3 linked regions of the Homo sapiens genome follow. The protein of the gene in region 3 purifies or fractionates together with the protein of the main gene of each other region. This does not show direct contact. Each region holds a gene or a part of one and is shown on either strand. Other genes may lie near its edges. The genes, in order: ETFRF1, LYRM2 and NDUFAB1.

The links.
Region 1: the proteins of NDUFAB1 (region 3) and ETFRF1 purify together in Homo sapiens (affinity purification with mass spectrometry; 4 studies listed by BioGRID and IntAct, with this or other methods). This does not show direct contact.
Region 2: the proteins of NDUFAB1 (region 3) and LYRM2 purify together in Homo sapiens (affinity purification with mass spectrometry; 5 studies listed by BioGRID and IntAct, with this or other methods). This does not show direct contact.

What each region holds. Positions count from the first base shown.
Region 1 is NC_000012.12:25,193,728-25,197,479, forward strand, and holds the start of ETFRF1 (electron transfer flavoprotein regulatory factor 1), read left to right. Parts: upstream 1-1,509; 5' UTR 1,510-1,610; exon of another isoform or gene 1,611-1,614; intron 1,615-1,626; exon of another isoform or gene 1,627-3,752. Other genes in the region: DNAI7 (dynein axonemal intermediate chain 7), read right to left, coding at 1,159-1,335. UniProt on the Homo sapiens protein: Acts as a regulator of the electron transfer flavoprotein by promoting the removal of flavin from the ETF holoenzyme (composed of ETFA and ETFB).
Region 2 is NC_000006.12:89,631,572-89,635,272, forward strand, and holds the end of LYRM2 (LYR motif-containing protein 2), read right to left. Parts: 3' UTR 653-3,701; downstream 1-652. UniProt on the Homo sapiens protein: Involved in efficient integration of the N-module into mitochondrial respiratory chain complex I.
Region 3 is NC_000016.10:23,589,597-23,593,348, reverse strand, and holds part of NDUFAB1 (acyl carrier protein, mitochondrial precursor), read left to right. Parts: intron 1-2,198; coding exon of another isoform or gene 2,199-2,256; intron 2,257-3,752. UniProt on the Homo sapiens protein: Carrier of the growing fatty acid chain in fatty acid biosynthesis.

The sequences.
Region 1 (3,752 bases), on a different chromosome or scaffold from region 3:
AAGTGCTTACTGTTCCCCCAATTTATTAGCAATTATAAATTGACTTAAGGTCCATTTGCATTCCGCCAGGAATGCTCTCCACTCCCTATTTCTTTTTTTCTCTTTTTTTTTTGAGACGGAGTCTCGCTCTGTCACCCAGGCTGGAGTGCAGTGGCACAATCTCGGCTCACTGCAACCTCCGCCTCCCAGGTTCAAGCGATTCTCTTGCTTCAGCCCCCTGAGTAGCTGGAATTACAGGTGCGCGCCAACACGCCCGGCTAATTTTTGTATTTTTAGTAGAGACTGGGTTTCACCATGTTGACCAGGCTGGTCTCGAACTCCTGACATCGTGATCTGCCCGCCTCGGCCTCCCAAAGTGCTGGGATTACAGGGGTGAGCCACCGCGCCAGGCCTCCACTCCCTATTTCTTCCCACCATATGTGGAAAACTCGTATTTATACTTTAAAACAGGTTGAAAAGCACCACTCTCCTTCCCTTGTTTCCCCTCACTGAAATTTCATCATTTCCAACTGTGTGTTACCCCATTTTAGATGCTTCAATTGTTACAGTTGTAAAGCTGTATTGTAATTAATTTGTTTAATCTGTATCCTATAAGCAGAGTTGTCGTCATGTTCTTCTTGGTATTCTTGGCTTCTAGCCCAGTGCCAAGTACAAAGAATGCACTCCACATTTTTCCCTTAATTAATGAATTAAATAAGTAATTACATTCTCCACTTCCTCTGGTTTTAATTATAGAAAATGTCTTGATGGAAACCACATTTAAGAAAATCAGAGATACTCTCATAGCTACATGTTGGCCTGTCTCCTTGCTGAAAACATGGCAGTTGAGGAGTGCAGAAAAACAAAATGAGAAGCCTTATCATATTTAACTAATGCAGGATGAGAACCTTGAATCACAAAACAATTCATATTCCCACAAAAGACGACATAAAATATTTTTTCAAAGCAGAGTAAATTGCATTAGCTTTTAATTAACTGCTGGAGAAGTACTAAAACATTTCCGCCAAGTTGCAATAAGAAAATTTAGTGGGAACGTCTATCACTACTGAAAGTTACTAGGTTGGGACCAATTTTCAAGCTTAGCAACATTCGAGATCAGGATACCGTGTGACAGCTTTGACCATCTCCCGTTTGCAGAAACTGGTTTGGGACTCCTACCTGTCCGCCTGGTCCAGGTAAGGAAAGCCATTGCTGAGAAGAGGGCCGACCCACCCCAAGGTATGAGTTATTTCCCAAACCGACCCGCTTCGCTGTAAAATATGACTGGCTCTTGATTACATTATTTAACACTGGTGAAGCAGAATCAGTGGTCGCCCCTCCACCTGTCTGCCTCATTTGCCTTGCTCACCATTAAGAGTCAAGCTCCACTGCAGTAGTCCGCAGAGTCGGAGCAGAAATTGTGTGGACAAACGCTCCCGGGTTGCCCGGACGACAGGCCCCGCCCACTTGAGCTCCAGGAAAAGAGCGCAGCCGCGCGGAGGCTCTTCCGGCCGGCGCCCCGCCCCCTTTACTGACAGGTTGCCCACCTCCCCCAACGCCACCCCGCTTCGCAGTAGACGGACAGAGGAGTCGTAGCGGTCGAGGCTTTTGCGGCTCCGGCGTGCCGGAAAGTGCGTGAGTGCCGCCGCCGGGGAGTTTTGTTCCATTTCCCGGATCCTGGGGTCTGGAGGCGAAATATGCTCTGGGCGAGGACCACCGGGTGTGGGAAGAGGGTTCTGAGCGTCTCCTGACGTTGACGGTTTATTTCCTAGAGTGTGTTGGGTCTTTCTGTGAGGGTTTCGAGAAGGAAACAGGCATGCGACTGGTTCATGCAGCGGACACCCGGTGGGAGGCCTGGGCCTCTGCGGTTTAATCCAGCAGGGGGATGGGGCTCATTCCGCAATTTAAAGAGAGAAATAAGTTGGCTCCAGAGGGTTGGTTATTTTAAGATTAATGACCTTCGGATTCTTCTTTCTGCTCTATTGTTTACTTTCTGTGCAGCGTACGCGTCCTTTTTCCTAAGAGCGCCCTAAACAAGAATTGAAAATGAAGCAATTCCTGGCTAAAATATTCCTTAACATGAAGATCGCTGAGGCCCCAAAGACTCATTAGTTTCCCGAGGTCACAGACTAATTTTACTAACCACACAACCTTTAGAATTTCAGTCTCCTCCCACATGAAGAAACGCCGGCACCTTACACCGACAGGAAAACTACAATTAAGTGAGGCTGTTCTCCTCAAGCCCGACTGAGTTCTCTGTAATTGTAGGGCATACCTACACCCTGTTTTAGCATTATGAGACCTGAAATACTTTTAAATTACTGGCACCATTTCTCATCTCTGAATTATAAGTTTATAATGCTCTATCCCTTCCAGTGTTATTGACTACATGCATTATTCATAGATAAGTAGTAGGACTAAGCTAGTCTTTGTGGGTTAAAGTGTTATTATCCCTATTGTAACCTGTAACTATTATAGGTTGTGTAATAGTTATTAGCATTTTACATCCATATCCTGGTAGCAAGATAAAAACATTTTAATAGCGACTTCGTACAGAGTTCTTACTCAGTTTACCATAGCTGTTTGATATGAAAGTTAAGGCTTCCTTTTAAATTAGTTTCAGTAAAACTAATGTTTAATGATAAAACACCTCAGTCAACTCAAGTTAGGATTCATCGGGGTAAGGAGATAGTTCAGTAATCCCAAGTTACCTTAAAATAGTGGGCTTTTAGAGGAAAGGCTTTACTGAAGCTCTCACTGTATCTACCCCATGGGGAACAATGATTAACAACTTTGGCCACCACATAACCCCCAGTAAAATGACAATTTTCCATTAGCCTGGAACTGGAACTGGTTAAGTCCTAACTCCTTAGCCTAGAATGACAGGGGGAAAAAACTATCAATGGGGACTGCAACCGCTGTCTCATCCAGCGCACACATCCAAGTTTTCAGAATAATAGGGGGCTTCTCTTAGTCCTTAACTCTTGGCTCTTTACTTAAAACAGTAACCTCCATGACTTCATGCAGAGTTCAGGAGCAGCCTCAGGGCCCTGCTGAACTCAAAATTGTTTATTCACTACATTGTGAACCCAAGGAGACCTATTTCTCTTAGTGGCTAAAGTAAACCTAAATGCTTCAAGGTCAACTGCATAAAGATAAACTGCATTGCCTGGTGTGGTGGCTCACGCCTGTAATCCCAGCATTTTGAGAGGCCAAAGTGGGTGGATCACGAGGTCTGGAGATGGAGACCATCCTGGATAACACAGTGAAACCCCGTCTCTACTAAAATAATACAAAAAATTAGCCGGGCGTGGTGATCAGCACCTGTAATCCCAGCTGCTCTGGAGGCTGAGACGGGAATCGCTTGAACCCGGGAGAGGGAGGTTGCAGTGAGCCAAGATCGCACCACTACACTCCAGCCGGGTCAACAGAGCAAGACTCCGTCTCAAAAAAAAAAAAAGATAAACTGCATTAATTCATATAAGTTAACATATCAAAGAAGAACAAATTTGCCATAGCCACACTAGTTACATTTTTGCTGGGCAAGTGTTTTATGATACATAATTTGTAAAAAGACCAACAACTAAAAAGGACAACTTAAGCCAGGTCCCTGAAAGCTTTCACAAGTTACAAATTGTGAATTAAATGAAGCTGTGCTGTTAGGCATTAAACAGGTTATAGTTTGCAATTCGAAATTACATCTATGTATATTTAATTTTAAATTATGTGAAAAGAACATGGTTCCGAAGAGGTGTTTTTTGTTTGTTTTGTTT
Region 2 (3,701 bases), on a different chromosome or scaffold from region 3:
GATGTCACAAGATCCAATATATCTTATGATAAAATTTATTGAAAAGTCAGTTTATTTAAATAATGAATAATTGGCTAACAGCTCTGGAAACAATGAGATCAAATGAGAAAGATTCAAATTGTTTGTTATTTTCTGTATTTTCAGTCAAAAAATCAGTTATATAGTGATTTTAAAGCAGATTAATGGAAAAAAATTCATGTAACAATTACCTGAAAATTTATAACCTATTCCTAATCAAACCCAATTATATCAGAATACCTTTCTGAATTTGAGATTTTTGCTCTACATTTTATAATGAATAAGGCTATTTTTTGAAAGTATTTCATTTTGAATTCTGTCATTAACCTCAAAAGCTTTCTACTGCTTTGCGGTGAAGGCAAAATATTCGATAACTCAACTTAGGCCCCACTGTTCCCCAACTTCATGGAGGCCAGAAGACTTTACTTTGTTCCATAATGAAATATAAACACAGAACAAAGTTGTAAAAGTAGCATGGATATGTTGAAACTTTGGACAAGCTTCTTGTCCTTTGGAATATGGGATTTATATTCATCTCCTCAATATCCCATGTATGCACAGAAACTTCAGTTCTATTTCTATAGACACAGGAACCTAGTGACTATTGAACGTAATTGTAATAAAATGCTGCTCATTGAGCCAAAGAGAAGAAATGATTTATTAACATGGGGACACCAAGAAAAACAAAGTATGCTTTTATTCCCTTTGTCAAGCTCAGTTTTAGGGTTTTTTCTTTTTTTTATAGTGACAATCCATAGATATAGACATTCCTAAAAGAAAAATAATTCAGTAGATATATGTCACTGTTACCTGAATATGGAATGAATTTGATGTTTTTTATTTTGTTGAGACAGGGTCTTGCTCTGTCACCCAGACTGGAGTGCAGTGGCATGATCACACCTCACTGCAGCCTTGGCCTCTCAGGCTCGTGATCCTCCTGCCTCAACCTCGCAAGTAGCTTGGGACTACAGGCGTGTGCCACCAGTCCTGGCTAATTTTTTGTAGATATAAGGTCTCATGATATTGCCCAGGCTGAATTTGATGTTATTTCAAGTTGATTTTCATGTGTTTGGGAGCTTGTCTTGTTCTCAACTACTACGCAGGTAGACAGTCTTCCCCCAGAGACTCATTAGATTGCAATATAGAGGCACTTTCTCATTTCCCTATTGTTCCTAATACAGAATTGTAGAGCTGGAGAGTACCTTCAGTTTTCTAAATCTATTCTCAAACAGGATATCACTAACCTCTTTAGAATCATTCCTCAGTATACATCAATTTATTGAGAACTGCCTAATACTCAAGAAATTAAATCCTGAGTTCAGTAGGCTGTGTTCCAAGCAGGAATTATTTTCACTTACCAAAATATCTCCTATTACCTCAAGGTATCCTTGTTGAGGAATGCTGAAAACTAAATTTTAAGTATCAAGTCTAGACCATAGAGTGCTTTGGTGGGAGTATTTTGATTACCTCCTACCCATCAGAAGCAGGCAGCTAATATTGTGAACTGAGTATTTTTGTCAAAAGTCACAGGGAAGAGACTACAGAAGAATGAGAAGGGTCAAAAGGACCTAGTGTGGCTTACTACATGGATCTTGTCTCTTGGAGGTCTGTCGTAGAAGAAGAAACAAATAGAGGTGATGAAGACACAGAACAGGCTCAGTCAGCATCCTCACCCAGAGATGGCAACATCTATTAAGACCAATGCAATACCTTTTCATCTTCAGCAAATGTTGTTTCATCTGTTTTTGATCCTTGGCATTGTCAAAAACTTAACTGCAGGTCCAGTGTATATTTTTCCTTATTTTTCCCTTTTAGCTATCTGCTAAAGTGAGTAAATGCCACAACTGTACTTTTCCAAAGAAAAAGAACTATTGACAACTTATAGCCTGTCATGCAGGTCATGTTTCAAATCAAGGCTGAAATTTTCAACAGCTGTGGGAAAAACTAAAACACAGAAATACTGTACAGTATTAGTGTTTTTTTAAAGAAATTGTTAGTGCATTATTGAGTATACTAAATATCTGTGATTAAATAAATTAGTTCTAACTTTTGATTTTGGGAGCCCAAAATAAAGGGAGTGTTGTTTTCATGGTTATGCCTTGTTTGTGGAGTCAAGTGTTGATATACTTGAGGCATGTTATGTGTCTTCTAATTAATATTTTTATCACCTTGAATTTGTGTCTCTTCCAAGCATTAAAGATACTATGGATCTTAAATTCCTTATTAAAAAAATGCAAGTGTGAATACTTTGTTTAGCTTACATTTTAATTTATTGTGGTTGACCACATTTTATGGCTCCTGAGTGCCTTCACCCAGCTACACTTTACCTTGTATCTATAAAAGTGTAATTTAGAGTAAATACATTGGCTGTAAAGTCGCGATCAGGTGCTCTCCACCAAAAGCAAAACAAAACTGCTGAAATGTGGCAAGGTTTCTCAGTGCAAGCTTAAATGTTTAAACTGTTGACCATTTGGAAAATACTGGACAAAGGGGAAGGACAAAACATCATTTGCAATAGTTAAAGGTTATGCAAGGCAAGGCAACATTATACTTTTTGACTAAGTTATTAAAAGTTAAATGCATTTCTTCTTTGAAGTGTGGATTATAAAAGCCAATCAAAGACAAAACCAGTTTGAAAAACCTTTTGTATTCTACAATACCTTTTATGAGTAAGAGTAAAACATACATTTCTTATTTGTAATTTTATTTAAGGAGAAATACTCTTTCCCTTTGATACGACTATAATATTATAAACAGCAAGGAATATGTTCTGCTTTCTGCAATTTTAGAAAGTCATTCCATTCTGGGTGACAGAATGAGGTAAGACTGTCTCTTTAAAAAAAAAAACAACTCACACCTGTAATCCTAGCACTCTGGCCACCGAGGCAGGTGGATTGCTTGAGCCCAGGAGTTTGAGACTAGCCTGGCAACAAAGTGAGATTCCCCCTCCTCTCTCTGAAAAGTAAAAAAAATTAGCCGGTCATGGTGGCACATGCCTGTGGTCCCAGCTAAATGAAAATCTGAAGCAGGTGGATCTCTTGAGCCCAGGAGCTCAAGGTTGCAGTGAGCCATGTTCGCGCCACCACACTCCAGCTTGTGCAACAGAGACCCTGTCTCAAAAAAAAGTCATCTGTGTGTTTCTTGCAGGCACATCTATGGCAATGCTTGTACCATGAATTTAAAACTTCTAACTTGATGGCACTTTTTTATTTTTTTTGAGACAAGAGTCTCACTCTTTCGCCCAGGCTGTAGTGCAGTAGTGTGTTCTCGGCTCACTGCAGCCTCTGCCTCCCGGGTTCAATATGAGGCAGCCCTCCTGAGTAGCTGGAATTACAGGCACGTGCCACCAGGTTAGGCTAGCTAGTGGCCTAGCTAGTCTCGAAATCCTGACCTAAAGTGATCCACCCACCTCAGCCTCCCAAAGTGTGTGGATTACTTGTGTAAGCCACAGTGCCCGGCCTTACCTGCTTTAAAAAACAAAAAAACTTAGGTTTTCTTGGAGTCTGTGCTAGTTGAATCTTGCAAATGCAAACCACATACGCTCTTTAATGAAAACCTTTCCATGCACACCACTGTTAGGAAGAGCATCATTAAATCACTGACTTCTACACCCATAAAAGGATGATTTTGAGTTTCAAGATTTTAGATTTACTAGAGATAGCATGTATCTATCAATCATGTCA
Region 3 (3,752 bases):
CTTCCCTAGGCTGTTGTGACACTGTTCTCCCTTGGTTGGTTTGTCCTCCTACCTTGTTGGGACACTTTGCCTTTCAGGCTGGAGTGCAGTGGCATGATCGTGGCTCACTGCAGCCTTGACCTCCTGGACTCAAATGGTCCTCCTGCCTCAGCTTCCTGAGTAGCTGGGACTACAGGCATGAGCCACCACCCCTAATTTTTTGATGTCTGTCTTCTTTTTAGAGACGGAATCTCCTTATGTTGCCTAGGCTAGTTGTGAACTCTTGGGCTCAAGCAATCCTCCTGCCTCAGCCTCCCAAGTGCTGGGATTACAGGCATGAGCCATCACACCTGGTGTGCCTAACCCTTAAATGTTGGTGGGCTCCCGAGTTCTCTTACCACACATGCTCCCTGGACTCTTCACTCCTGGTTTCTGTTATTGCTGTATATCCCAGACCTCCGCCTCCAGTCCTTGTTCATCTCATTTGGACCATTGCTCATGCTACCTATTCCCTGCTGTGAAATTTCCTCTCCTCAAATCCATCCACTATGCCAACTTCAGAGCAACTAGTCACTCATTTACACCCTTTTTCCCAAAAGGAGCTAAGGCAGTTTTCCTGGGTATAAAAATACCAGATGATATAAAATAGAAGGTAAGGAAAAAACAAAAAAACAAAAACCAAGGGCAATGGCCTAAAATGCAGCCTGGAAGTCTTATACTTGATCCAGGTAGGCCCCGAATCTACACTGTCTAGCAGATGGAGCACAAAGATAATTTCCAGCAGTTCTATGGGGCATGGTACGCAGATGAAGACAGCACTTGTACAAAAAAAAGCTAGCTATTCCAGGACTGGGACCAGGACCAGACAAAGTCCCAGTCCCTTCCCATGGCCCTTAAGGCTCTGCAGACCTGGGCCCTCCCTCTTAGCCTCCAAGCCTGTCATCTGTGTACCATCTCCCAACATGAGCTGATGTCTTCTCACATAGACACAGGCACTGCACTTTCATGACTTTTTTTTTTTTTTTTTTTCCAGACAAGGTCTCTGTCACTTAGGCTGGAGTGCAGTGGCATGATCATATATCAGTGCAGCTTCAAACTCCTGGGCTCAAGCAATCCTTCTGCCTCAGTCCCTTGACTAGCTGGGATAACTGGCCTGCGCTACCACGCCTGACCTCATTTCGTTTTCTTGACCTGTTCTTCCCTCTCCTTGAATTATCAGTCTCAGCTCTTTTCCTCACCAAATCCAAGTCTGGCATCCTCCTTTCCGGCCACTCAAGGACTGAGTGACAACTTTTGTTATTGCATCAGCCTACAGATACTTCTGTCATGGTGCTTGCCATATTTTTATTTCAACTAAAATGATCTGTGGATTGGTCTTTTCCATTAGAGTGTAAGCTTCTTTTGGGGGAAGGTTGTGTCTTATTCATCTTTGCATTTCCAGCCCATTGCACAGTTCTTGGCACACAGGTAAAGTTCCCAGGCTTCTGAGACAGTCGTGTAAATAAAGGCAAGGCATTGTGAAACAGGTGTGTGTAGTGCAAAAGCAAAAAGAGATACTTGACCAATCTCTCAGTGAACGTGATCTTGAAGGCCTGTGCAGAGGCCAGGAAGAGCCTGGCACTTACCTCCTTGTGGTTGACTCTTAGGGTGTCTGGAAGGGAACATTGTTGGGGGGAAGAGAGTGAGCATATCATGAAGGGAGCTGTATGCTGCAGCGAGGAATTGTGGGTATTCTCTGCAAAGGTCATAGGGAGTGAACATGAAACAGGGCTTATTGAAGGAATAAGCCCCAGGTGGCGGAGAAGGAACAGAGGTCTGTAAGCAGGAGTTTTGGAGACAGGTCAGGAGTTCATTTCCAAACTGTTGAGTTTGAGAGGTCTGGGCTGCCTGTGTAGAGTGGACCAGTCGGCAGTTTGTAGAGACGGCCTTTAAAGCCCTCTCCTTAGCCTCCTCTGAGTTTGCCTCAGGCAGAAGTGAGCCCCAGTGGAGTACCGGGATTCTGATGGAACCTCATCTGTTTGAATTACTAGCCCAGAGGGTCATCACTCTTTACCTGCAAACAGTACCTTCTCTGATGTCTGGGAGAGGTGGTTTATTTCCCATATACTTGTTAAGTGTAGATCTTGGGGAAGAACAACTAACACCAGAAACATCACATGTTGGCTGTTGGGGAGGTGCTTGTCCATTTTGTATCCCTTTTATTTTTTCCCAATCAACAGAGATCCAGTTAGAAGGAGCAGCAAGACCTTCCAGGAGGCCATGCTGGAAGGACATGGGGTGAGGAGGATACCTAACCTTCCCTTGCCTCAGTTTCTCATCTGTAAAAAGGAGGGTGATAGTATCATGGATCTCACCAGAATACTGGAGAGCTGAAGAAAGATGATGTGTGTAAAGTGCAATATCATAGCCTGAGCTGATAAGAAATTAATGGAGGCCGGGACGTGGTGGCTTATGCATGTAATCCCAGCACTTTGAGAGGCTGAGGTGAGTGGATCACTTGAGACCAGGAGTTCAGGACCAGCCTGGCCAACATGGTAAAACCTCATCTCCACTAAAAATACAGAAATTAGCCAGGCATGGTGGTGCACGCCTGTAATCCCAGCTACTTGGGAGGCAGAGGCATAAGAATCACTTGAACCTGGGAGGCAGAAGTTGTGGTGAGCCAAGGTCACAACACTGCACTCCAGCCTGGGCAACACAGTGAGACTCTGTCTGAAAAAAAAAAAAAAAAGAGACCAGAGGCAGGAGCATGAGAGGGTAGTAGGATCAAGTATTTTGGGGCTACGCTACAGCCAAGGTATCAAACTAGCTGCTGCTGGTCATTGTTCTCAGGATCCTACTAAATAACCCTAAATAGCACTTACTGTGTTAAGTGCCAGCCAATGTCCAAGCCTTTACTTCATCTCACTGATGCTTCACAACAGTCCTGTGAGTGTGGTACTGTTGTTTATCCCCATTTTACAGATGAGGAAACTGAGATGTAGAAGGTTAAGTAACCCACCCAAGGCCAAACAACTAGTGAGAGCCAGCACCATGGTGCAGGCATAGGTGGTCTAGTTTCAGCGTCTGAGCTCTTGCCCACTAACTTACTGCCTCACGCTGATCCTGATGCAGCACCCACTCTAGATTGGCATGTGGCCTCCAGTCAGAGACTCGTTTAATTTAATCACATGGTGCCCACCTGGCCCTTGTAGGTACTTGCTGGAGCTGCTGAGGACAATGCTGACAACCTAGTTGGCCTCATGGGTAGTTGTGTACGAACATAGAATATACCCTCACCAGGGGTCTTGCTTTGTTGCCCAGGTTGGTCTGGAACTCCTGGGCTCAAGCGATCCTTCCACTTTGGCCTCCCAAAGTGTTGGGATTACAGGCGTGAGCCACCACACCTGGCATCGTACCATTTCTTTTTTTTTTTTTTTTTTTTTTTCTTTTTGGAGACAGAGTCTCACCCTGCCGCCCAGGCTGGAGTGTAGAGCCATGATCTCAGTTCACTGCAACCTCTGCCTCCTAGGTTCAAGTGATCCTCCCACTTCAGCCTCCTGATTAGCTGGGATTATAGGCACACGCCACGATGCCCGGCTAATTTTTGGACTTTCAGTAGAGATGGAGGTTTCACTGTGTTGGGCAGGCTGGTCTTAAACTCCTGACCTCAAGAGATCCGCCCACCTTGGCCTCCCAAAGTGCTGGGATTACAGGCGTGAGCCACCACACCTGGCCTCGTACCATTTCTTGATAAGCACACAGCCTCTGTTAGATCCCTCCAACTGAAATTT